2 separate regions of the Homo sapiens genome follow, and region 2 is linked to region 1. Evidence: fine-mapped expression QTL. A gene starts in region 1. The other region holds a variant in brackets. All regions are shown on one strand. Distances are between the middles of the regions.

Region 1 (5,384 bases):
CTACTGTTCCACATTCTTGTGACACTCAATATTGTCAAATTAGAAGAATTTTGCCCACCCAATGAAAGTGAAAAGGTACTTCATTTAGGTTTCAATTTGCATGTCCTGGGTATTGTTGAGATGAAACATATTTTTAAATGTTTATTGCCAGCCATGTTCTTCTGATATGAAATGAAACTTCATATCCACACAGCATATCTTGGTGGCCAGGAGGTGTCATCATCACATTTTAAGAACTCTGTGTCTTTTCTCCAAAACTTGTTCTAACTGCAGCCTTCCCCCCCTTTGGTGATGCAACTGTCCTTCTGGCTGCTAAGGCAGATGCCTTGGAGCCCTCCCTGTCTTTCTCTTTTTCTGACCACATCCCCATGTGATAGGAAATCCTGATAGGAAATCCTCCTTTCAAAATGCATTCAGAAACCGACCGCCTCTCACCTCCTCTGCTGCCTCCACCCTGGTCCAGGTCACTAGGCTCTGAATTTCTGCAATAAGTCTTCCTCATTTGCTGTCCAGGCCCTGAGCAGCAGTCAGATCACATCACACCTGTCAATAACCCACAGTGGCTCCTAACCTCTCCCAGAATAAAAGCCAAAGCCGTTACAATGGCCCATGTGGTCTTATACAACAGCGTTTAGGGATGTGGGAAAGAGGGTGTTGGCTGGGGTGATGGAGGTGACCAGGTCACCTATCTTCAGCTGGGCTGGGGCTTATGATGCAGTGGCCAGTGGCCATTGAGGGTCCCTAGGGTCCGTAAGAAAGGGCAAGTCCTAATGTACAAGCACTTTCCTATAGTTTTGTATTTTTCAATGTCCCACTGGCTAGAGCAGGTCACCCAGCCAGGCTGATTCCAGGGCTGGAAAGTAGAGTCCATTTCTTGCTGGGAGGAAGGACAAAGCCAGATGGCAGAGGGTGAGCGTATAGGGAGTGGTGAGTACGTGGCCATTGTTGAAGTTGACTACCCTGGGTTAAGTGTTACAAGTACCAGTGGTGGGTAAACCTCTAGGGATGATTGCATAAAAGAAAATCAAAAGGTCTAGATGGTTGGAGTATTGCATTAAAAAGATGAGGAATACTACATGCATTCACTTTCTGGAATCTGTGTTTAAATGCCATACACTTTAAAATCTAATCTGCTTGCCCTCTGATTTGGAGAGAATTAACCCAGAAATTATCCAGGTTCTTTAGGGCTCCAAGACATTCTAAAAAATAAAGGTGAACGTTGAATTTAACCAGTTGACAGTTGTTCTTGGATTATGATCAATCAGCCTGTGGCAGCAGGGCACATGCTGAGAACAAGCCTCAGGTTCTCTAAGTTCTCCCACCACCACAATGTTCAGCTATAGTGAACTCATAGAAACCGTGTGTCGGGGCCTCCAACTTCGCCAAGCACCATAAGAAGTTTGAGTTGTGAAAAAATTTTCTCTACTCAAAATTGTGAAGAGAAACGGCAAGGTTTAAATTACCACATATTTGTCTTTGAAGAACTTTACAACAACTTCATTGACTGTTAAATTTAGATTCATAAAAATCTAAACAACGGCCGGGCGCGGTGGCTCAGGCCTGTAATCCCAGCACTTTGGGAGGACGAGGTGGGCGGATCACCTGAGGTCAGGAGTTCAAGAACAGCTTGGCCAACGTGGTGAAACCCCGTCTCTACTAAAAATACAAAAATTAGCTGGGCGTGGTGGCGGGCGCCTGTAATCCCAGCTACTCGGGAGGCTGAGGCAGGAGAATCACTTGAACCCAAGAGGCAGAGGTTGTTGTGAGCAGAGATCGCCATTGCACTCCAGCCTGGGCGACAAGAGTGAAACTCTGTCTCAAAAAAAAAAAAAACAAAAACAAAAACTAAATGACATTTGAAAGCAATTTGTAGATTTTCACACTTCCTAAGAATTCTCAAAGATGCCAAAAACAAAAATCGCAGCCACTAGCAATTTAAATGACTTCCTCGTAGCCAAATAAATCCTAAGGTAAAATTATAAACATTCCCTTAAATTCAAATTTTATAACAAAAAGAAAGATAATAGGGAACGGAGGGTGAATTATTGTGTTTGATATATTTGGCGGTGAAAAATACATATATTACGTGCTGTTTAGGGTCCACTGAGAGTCATAAAACTGACCCTAGTGACCGAGCTACCGGAAGGACTTGGCAAGGGTCTAGCGAGCTCGGTTATCTGCGTTTTCCAGGTGGGGCAGCCCAAGACCCTTCTCAGACCCAGAGAAGCTGGGTTTCCGCCCAAAGCCCGGCCCCAAACCACCGATTTCCGACCTTTCAACCTACTTTGGCAGAGCAAGAGTTTCCGCGGGAGACTCCCTGCTTCCCTCTGCCCAGGTCCCCTGAGGCCGAGTGCGGTACTGAGTGCTGAGTAAGGGGTGCCGAGTGCCAAGCACTGAGTAACTGGGGGAGGGGAACCATGCAGCTGTCATAAATAATTAGCTCCTGTGAGGAACAGGAACTCCGAGACTGCGGCCGGGCCAGGTGGGCAGAGGTCGCAGCGCCCTCGCCGCGTTCCCCGTCCCCATCCGACGCCAGGACAGCGCCTCCTTAACTGGGGTAGCCCCTGAGAGCGTGGGCGGAGCCCCGCCCCGCGACCTCAAGGCCCCGCCCCCTCAGCGCCTCCCGGCCCAGCAGCTCGGAAGACCGCGAGGCGCGCTTTTCTGACGCATCGGCGCCTTTCGTCTGACGTATGCCTGCACCGCCCCCTCCCCTCCCTGCCCCGCCCCCGCCCCGCCCCCGACTGCGCGGCGCCCGCCCTCCCTTAGTCAGAGCTGCTCGTCTGAGGCTGCTGAGGCGACGGCCGGTGTCGTGGTCGCGGTACCTGTTCCAACACGGCTCGCGGGCCCGTGCCGGCTCCGGTCCCCGGCGCGGCTGTCCGAGCCCCTGCGGCGGGCGGACGATGGTGTGGCGGAGCACGCGGACGCGGGCGGCGCGGCGGCGGGCATGAAGGAGGATGGAAGGGCAGGACGAGGTGTCGGCGCGGGAGCAGCACTTCCACAGCCAAGTGCGGGAGTCCACGGTGCGTGGGGACCGAGGCAGCCCTGACAGTCCCGCGTGCCCGCCCGGGCCCTCCGTCCCCGCCCCCGGGCCCCCGGTCCCCGGACCCCTCACCTCCGGGCCTCGCCTCGCGCCTCCCGCCCCGGCCTCTGCCGCTCTCCCTCCCCACCCCTCCTCTCCCCTCCCCTCCCCTTCCCTCCCCACCTCTCCTCTCCCCTCCCCTCCCCTTCGCTTCCTCTGCCTGCCCCCCCGCTCCGCTCTTGCCTCCCCTGCCCCCTCGCGCTCCCTCCGTTCGAGCCCCGACCCCGCCCCCGCCCCGCGGCCTCGGTGCTGCCCTTCCCTTCCCGCGGGGAGGGCTGCGGTGCGCGCCGCGCTCTGGGACCCCAGGGGCTTCCTCTCTGGGCGGGTGTGCGGCTCGCGCCTCGGGGTGTGGACGGCGGCCCCGCCAGTGCGCGCCCCCGCGCTCCGCCGCCAGGCCAGGTAGGCAGGTGGATGCGCAGGCGTCCCGGAGAGCCTGGGTGGGCCCGGCGGGTCCGGGAAGGGCCGGGCTGCGCGGAGCCCGCCCGCCTCTCGCGTTTGGACCCGGCCGGTTACCTTGTCCCGGTCAACACCTCCTGCCCTCCTGGCGCCTCACGTTTCCATCCCTCTTTCATCTCCCCCAGCCCCCACGTGGGTTGAGTTCGAAACCTTACCGTTTGGGATGAGAATATTGGTTATTTTTGGGAGTGAGGACCTCAGCAAAAGTCCATTTTGCTATGGAAGCAACTTCTTAGGGAAGCAGCTTCTTTTTTGGCCCATGTTCCATGTGTGCTGTTGGCAGGAGTCAGGAAGCGGACTTGACCTTGGAAAGTCTACTTTGATGTTTTTATCTTTTCATGATGCTCTAGAATGTATTGTAATTGGGTTTATCTGTGTTTTCATAACTGTTGTAAAATATGTCAATTTTTTATGTTTATATTTACGCCTCTCCTAAGTTGTCTACGATTCAGTCACACTTGGTTTGAGGTGAAAAAATTCTGCTTTAGAATTATCTAATTTGTGTACTCACTGATCTTGAAAATTGAGAATCACTTTGGAAGTCATACTTTGAATAAAGAGGACATATAAAGTCTGAGCTGGTGGAATTTGAGTTAGTGGAATTTGGTACACATTTAGTTGTAATTTTTATAATTGAAGCTAAAATACACAGAGATAAGTTCATGTAATCATACATGTACCCTTCAGATCATTTCATACTAAACACGCCTGTGTACTCCTGAATCCACCAGGAGTTTGAGACTGGTCAGCCTGGGCAACATAGTGAATCCCCATCTCTACCATTATAAAAAAATAAATAAATAAACACAATTTTACTAGGATCCCAGAGACTGATTCCTTTCCCTCTTCCAATTACTTTCTCCTCCACCAAGGGTAAACGTTGCCCTGGCTTCTAATATCATAGATTAGTTTTTGCTTAGTTTTGAACTTTATGTAAATGGAATCTTACCGTATATACTCTTCTGTGTCCAGTTTCTTGTACAATGTTTGTGAAATTTCTCCATGTTGTATGTGGTTATAATTCATTCTCGGTGCAGTAGTTGTGTGACTATAGCACAATTTATTTTTCATTTTACTGTTGATGGGCACTTCAGTAGTTTCTAGGTTTTGGCTATGAATATATATATGTGTATATATATGTGTATGTATATATGTGTGTGTGTGTGTGTGTGTGTGTGTATATATATATATATATATATATTTTTTTTTTTTTTTTTTTTTTGTGATGGAGTCTCGCTCTGTCTCCCAGGCTGGAGTGCAGTGGCACAATCTCGGCTCACTGCAACCTCTGCCTCCGGGATTCAAGTGATTCTCCTACCTCAGCCTCCTGAATAGCTGGGATTACAGGCACACACCACCACACCCAGCTAATTTTTCTATTTTTATTAGAGACGGGGTTTCTCCATGCTGGCCAGGCTGGCCTTGAACTCCTGACCTCAGGTGATCCACCTGCCTTGGCCTCCCAAAGTGCTGGGATTACAGGCATGAGCCACCACGCCGGGCTGGCTATGAACTTTTTGTACATAGCTTTTGGTGGACATGTTTGTGCATTTCTGTTGGGGATAGCCCTAGGAATGGAATCCCTAGGTTAAAGAGTGTGCATTTGTTCATCTTTAGTAGATACTTTAAAACAATTTTCCAAAGTGGTTGTACCAGTGTACACTTCCGCCAGTACTGACAGTCTCAGAGGTGTGGTTGTTACTCATCTTTATCAATACTTGATATTTTCTGTCCTTTTTAATTTTAGTCATTCTAGCAAGTGTGTTATAGTGTTCATCATACAAATAATTTTAATTTGCATTTTCCTGATAACTAATGAATTTGAGCACCTGTTTGTTTATTAGCCATT
Region 2 (5,384 bases), 84 kb after region 1:
CCCTGGAGACTTTGGAAGGAGCGTGGTCCTGCTGACACCTTGATTTCAGACTTCTAGTCCCTGGAACTGTAAGAGAGTAGATTTCTGTTGCTTGAAGCCATTCGGTTTGTGGTGCTTTGTTTCCTCAGTTCCAGAAAACCAGTACACCATGCAACATACTCACAGAAGGCTGGGGATTCAGGCATGGGGACCTTGTCCACTATGCCTACCTTGAGTCTGCAACTGAGATGTCAGAATTAGTAGACAAATACATGAAAACAATTCTTTTTTTTTTTTGAGACGGAGTCTGACTCTGTCGCCCAGGCTGGAGTGCAGTGGTGCAATCTTGGCTCACTGCAACCTCCGCCTCCCGGGTTTAGGTGATTCTTCTGCCTCAGCCTCCCGAGTAGCTGGACTACAGGCGTGTGCCACCATGCCCAGCTAATTTTTGTATTTTTAGTAGAGACGGGGTTTCACCATGTTGGCCAGGATGGTTTTGATCTCTTGACCTCGTGATCCACCTGCCTCGGCCTCCCAAAGTGCTGGGATTACAGGCGTGAGCCACCGCGCCTGGCCAGGAAAACAATTCTTATAACTATTCCATATGTTCCAGAAACTTAGAGGAAATGTTGAACATACTGAGATGTAAAAGATGTAAAAAAACAAAATTCTAGAGATGAAAACTATAGCATGTGATGTGAAAGTATATAAAACAGTAGATTAATAGCAGATTAGACATTGCAGAAGAGATTAATGAATTTGAGGACATAGCAATAGAAAACTATTCAAAAGTGGGGCTGGGCGCTGTGGCTCATGCCTGTAATCCTGGCACTTTGGGAGGCTGAGGTGGGTGGATCACCTGAGGTCGGGAGTTCAAGACCAGCCTGGCCAACTTGGTGAAACCTCGTCTCTACTAAAAATACAAAAATTAGCCAGGCATGGTGGTGCATGCCTGTAGACTCAGCTACTTGGGAGGCTGAGGGAGGAGAATCGCTTGAACCCGGGAGAGGTGGAGGTTGTAGTGAGCCAAGATTGCGCCACTGTACTCCAGCCTGGGTGACAGAGCAACACTCCATGTAAAAAAACAAAAAACAAAAAAATCAAAAAACTATGTGAAAGTGAAACACAGAGGGAAAAATGGCTGAAAAGTGACAATAGTGCTGTAGTTTGGATGTTTATTCCCCCATACCTCATGTTGAAATTTGACTCCCAGGGCCAGGCATGGTGGCTCACACCTGTAATCCCAGCACTTTGGGAAGCCTGGGTGGGTGGATCACTTGAGGTCAGGAGTTTGAGACCAGCCTGGCCAACATGATGAAACACCATTTTTACTAAAAATACAAAAATTAGCCAGGCGTGGTGGTGCATGCCTGTAATCCCAGCTACTCGGGAGGCTGAGGCAGGAGAATCACTTCAACCTGGGAGGCAGAGGCTGCAGTGAGCTGAAATTGTGCCACTGCACTCCAGCCTGGAGGACAGAGCGAGACACTATCTCAAAAAAAGAGAGAGAAATTTGATTCCTAGTGTTGGAGGTGGATCTAGTGGGAGGTGTTTGGGCCAGTGGGGCAGATCCCCCAAGAATAGATGAATTCCCTCCCGGGAGGTGGGTGAGTGAGTTCTTTATTCTCATAAGAGCTGGTTGTTAAAAAGAGCCTGGCACAACCCCCTCTCCATTGCTTCCTGTCTTCTCCTGTGATCTCTGCATATGCCAGCTCCCCTTCGCCTTTCGCCACGAATGGAAGCAGCTTGAGGCCCTCCTCACAGCAGCTGTTGGCACCAAGCTTCTTGTACAGCCTGTAGAACTGTGAGCCAAATAAATCTCTCTCTTTTTTTTTTAATAAATTACCCAGCCTCAGGTATTCCTTGATGGCAATGCAAAGTGGGCTAACACACAGGGTATCAGTGATGTAGTTGGTGTTTCTAAAGGAGGGGAGTTGAGAAAAATATTTGGAAACTTAATGGCAGAAACATTTCAAAATTGATGAGAACTATAAACCCACTGATTTTAGAAGCTTAACCAGTTCTATGTACAAGAAACATGAGGAAAACTGTACCAACGCATGTAATCTGATGGCTCAAAATCAGTGATAAAGAGAAAATCTTAAATGCATCTACAAAAAGAGACACGTTAAGTTCAGAGGAGCAATAATAAGAATCACAGCATGTTTCTGGTGGGAAACAATGCAAGCCAGATGACGTTGTGACAGTGTAGCAACAGTGTAGTCAGCCCTCTGGATCTGTGGATTCTAGATCTGTAGATTCAACCAACCACGGATCACAAATATTGGAAAAAAAGATGGTTGTGTTTATAGTGAGCATGTACAGAGTTTTTTCTTCTTATTCCCTAAACAATATAGTATAATTATTTACATAGATTTACACTGTATTAGGTATTGTAAGTAATCTATGGATGATTTAAAGTATATAGGAGGATATGCATAGGTTATATGCAAATACCATGCCATTTTACATAAGGGACTTGAGCATCTGTGGATTTTAGTATCTATGGGAGGTCTTGGAACCAATCCCCTACAGACACTGAGGGAGGATTGTACTAAAAGAAAAATCCCAGCCAGTCTAGTTTTATCCCCAGTGAAAATATTTTTCAAAACAAAGGCAAAATAGTGATAGTGTCAGATACACAAAAGATAAAAATTCATCATCAGCAGAGCTGTACATTAAAAAATGTTACAGGTTGTCCTTCATGTGGTAGGAGGTGGGTAGGAGATAGATATCTAGGAACCGTGAGCTAAACAAACCCGAGGGAATATATCTTAACTCATTTCCTAACTCTACAAAATGAAATGAAGAGCACTAGAAGCAGCAGTTTATATGTAGAGAAGCTTTTTAAAAATCCTGTGTTTAGAAAAGATAATTGGCTGTTTAAAAAGTAGTAACAATGTATTATGAATTTTATTATAGATGTACAAGTAAGTTATATGACAACGATAACACACAGGAGGAAAGCCACGGAAGCACACTGTTGTGAAGTTCTCATGCTCTACGTGAAGTGTTATCTTTTTTTTTCTAAGTGACAGCAAGTTTATTAAGAAAGTAAAGGAATAAAAG[G/A]AATGGCTATTTCATTGGCAGAGCAGCCAATAAAATCATCTGAAGGCAGATTGTGATGAGTTAAAGGCGTATATGATAAACCTGAAGACAAACCAGAAATAGCCCAACAGAGATATAGTGAATAAGTAAACAAAGGAAATAAACTAGAATCATAAAAAATACTTAATCTGTGGGAACATAGAAGAAGGGAAGCTAACACATGGGGCAAATAGAAAACAAAAAGCAAGTTGATAGATTTAAAGCTAACTATATCAATAATCACTTTAAATGTAATGTTCTAAACACTACAACTAAAAGGCAGAGATTATCAAATTGAATATAAAAGCAAGACTGAAGTATATCTGCTTGCAGGATACCCACTGTAAAGACAAAACTAGGTCAATGGCAGTAGGAGAAAAAAGATACACCATGCTAATTTTAAACAGAGCAAAGTTGGAGTGGCTATATGATTATCAGACAAGGGCAAAGAATATTACCAGTCATAAAGAAGATCATTTCATCATGTTGAAGTGGTTTGTTCACCCAAAGAGCCTAATGATACTTAGCATATATCTGCCTAATGACATATATTAAGTACATGAAGCAAAAACGGAAAGTGTAGTCAGAATCACAATTACATTCAGATATTTCAACACCCTTCTTTCAATAATTGATAGAACATATAGAAGAAAAAATCACGATATAGAAGATTTGAATAATACTATCAACTGACTTGACCTAATTAACATTTATAGAACATCCAAGAATAGAATACATATTCTTTTCCAGTACAATGTGGGCATTTACCAAGAGAGATCACATTCTTTGCCATAAAATAAGTCTCAATACATTTTAGGATTTTAAGTCATACAAGATACACTCTGTAAGGACAATGAAATTAAATAAGTGTCAGAAAACTTACCTAGAAACAATCTAGAAGATCCCTGAGTATTTGGTAATTGATAACATACTTTACAATAACTCACTGGTCAAAGAATAATCAAAAGGGAAATTTGAAAGTGCTTTGAACTGAATGAAATGAAAATAAAACATTTTAATATTTGCGGGATGTGTCTAAAAAGTTTTTAAAGGTCAATGTATAGCACGAAATACCTGTATTACAACAGAAAAAAGGCCTCAAATCAGTTTCTGCAGAGTCAACGAATAGATCCCAAAGAAGGGAAATCTTTCTTTAAAAATCTTGAGAGAGGAAATCAATGAAATAGAAAACAGGAAATCACCAAGAAGAACACTGAAATTGATAAACAATGCCAGAATGATCAGCAAAAAAGAAGAGACCAATTGCCAGTATTAGGAATGAGAGAGGTGACATCACTACATATTGAACAGTGATTAAAAGGATAATAATTGCATATTATGAACACCTTTATCCAACAAATTCAACAACTTAGAGAAATGGACAAATTTCCTTAACAGGCAAAAACTATTAAAGCCTTCTCAAATATTCTGGGAATGTTAGAAACATTCTCACAAATAAAGCTTTAGGCCAGGAGGATTTACTGTCAGTTCTATCATATAGTTAAGGAAGAAATAATAGCAGTTCTGCACAGATTCTTCTAGAAAATTGAAGATGTGGGAACATTTCCTAATTCACTGAGGTCAGCATTACCCTCATACCAAAACCAGGCAGACAATACATGAAAACTGAAAGTTTCATGACAGGCCAGTGTCACGAACATAGATGCTTAAGTTCTAAATACAATTTTAGCGAATCAAATGTAACACTGTATAAAAATGATAATACATCATGACTTTTGCAATGCCAATCCATGTGATTTTATTAACGTGCTAGAAAAAAAAAAGTCATATGGTCGTAACAATACATGCAGAAAAAGCATATGACAAAATTCAGTATCCATTTCTGGTAAAATCTCTCAGCAAAGTAGGCCTGAAATGGGATGTTCTCATCCTAATAAAATGCATCAGGCTGGGCGTAGTGGCTCACGCCTGTAATCCCAGCACTTTGGGAGGCTGAGGCGGGTGGATCACCTGAGGTCAGGAGTTCGAGACCAGTCTGACCAATGTGGTGAAACCCTGTCCCTACTAAAAATATAAAACTTAACTGGGCATGGTGGTGTGCACCTGTAGTCCCAGCTATTCGGGAGGCTGAGACAGGAGAATTGCTTGAACCTGGGAGGTGGAGGTTGCAGTGAGCTGAGAAATCGCACCACTGCACTCCAGCCTGGGCGACAGAGTGAGACTCCGTCTCAAAAAAAAAAAAAAAAAAAAAAAAAAAAAGCATCTACAAAAAACCTACTGATAACATCATACTTAATGGTGAAAGACTGGATGCTTTCCCCCTGAGATCAGGAACAAGGCAAGGACATCTGTTCTTA

Direction of the effects. Positions count from the first base shown, and alleles are read on the strand shown. Sizes are in standard deviations (SD) of each study's normalised expression.
With allele G in place of A in region 2, the expression in iPS cells of the gene that starts at base 2,765 in region 1 is higher (moderate effect, 0.52 SD a copy in HipSci).

The links. PIP is the estimated chance that this variant, and not a neighbour inherited with it, causes the effect.
Region 2: its variant is the best candidate, but not a certain one, in a credible set for the expression of LMBR1 in iPS cells (HipSci, PIP 0.71).

The regions. Positions count from the first base shown.
Region 1 is chr7:156,890,564-156,895,947 of GRCh38, reverse strand. It overlaps LMBR1 (limb development membrane protein 1), which reads left to right and starts at 2,765. Exons shown (of 17, transcript NM_022458.4): 1 at 2,765-3,020. The coding sequence starts at 2,955. LOC102723795 (a long non-coding RNA gene) reads right to left here and starts at 2,550. Exons shown (of 4, transcript XR_928253.3): 1 at 2,285-2,550; 2 at 436-516. RefSeq lists an enhancer at 162-241 and silencers at 2,544-3,123, 3,174-3,673.
Region 2 is chr7:156,806,501-156,811,884 of GRCh38, reverse strand. The region is part of intron 4 of LMBR1 (limb development membrane protein 1); the gene reads left to right. Among named protein-coding and RNA genes, the nearest start is that of LMBR1, 84 kb to the left of the region's middle. The variant G/A (reference allele first, on the strand shown) is at 3,049.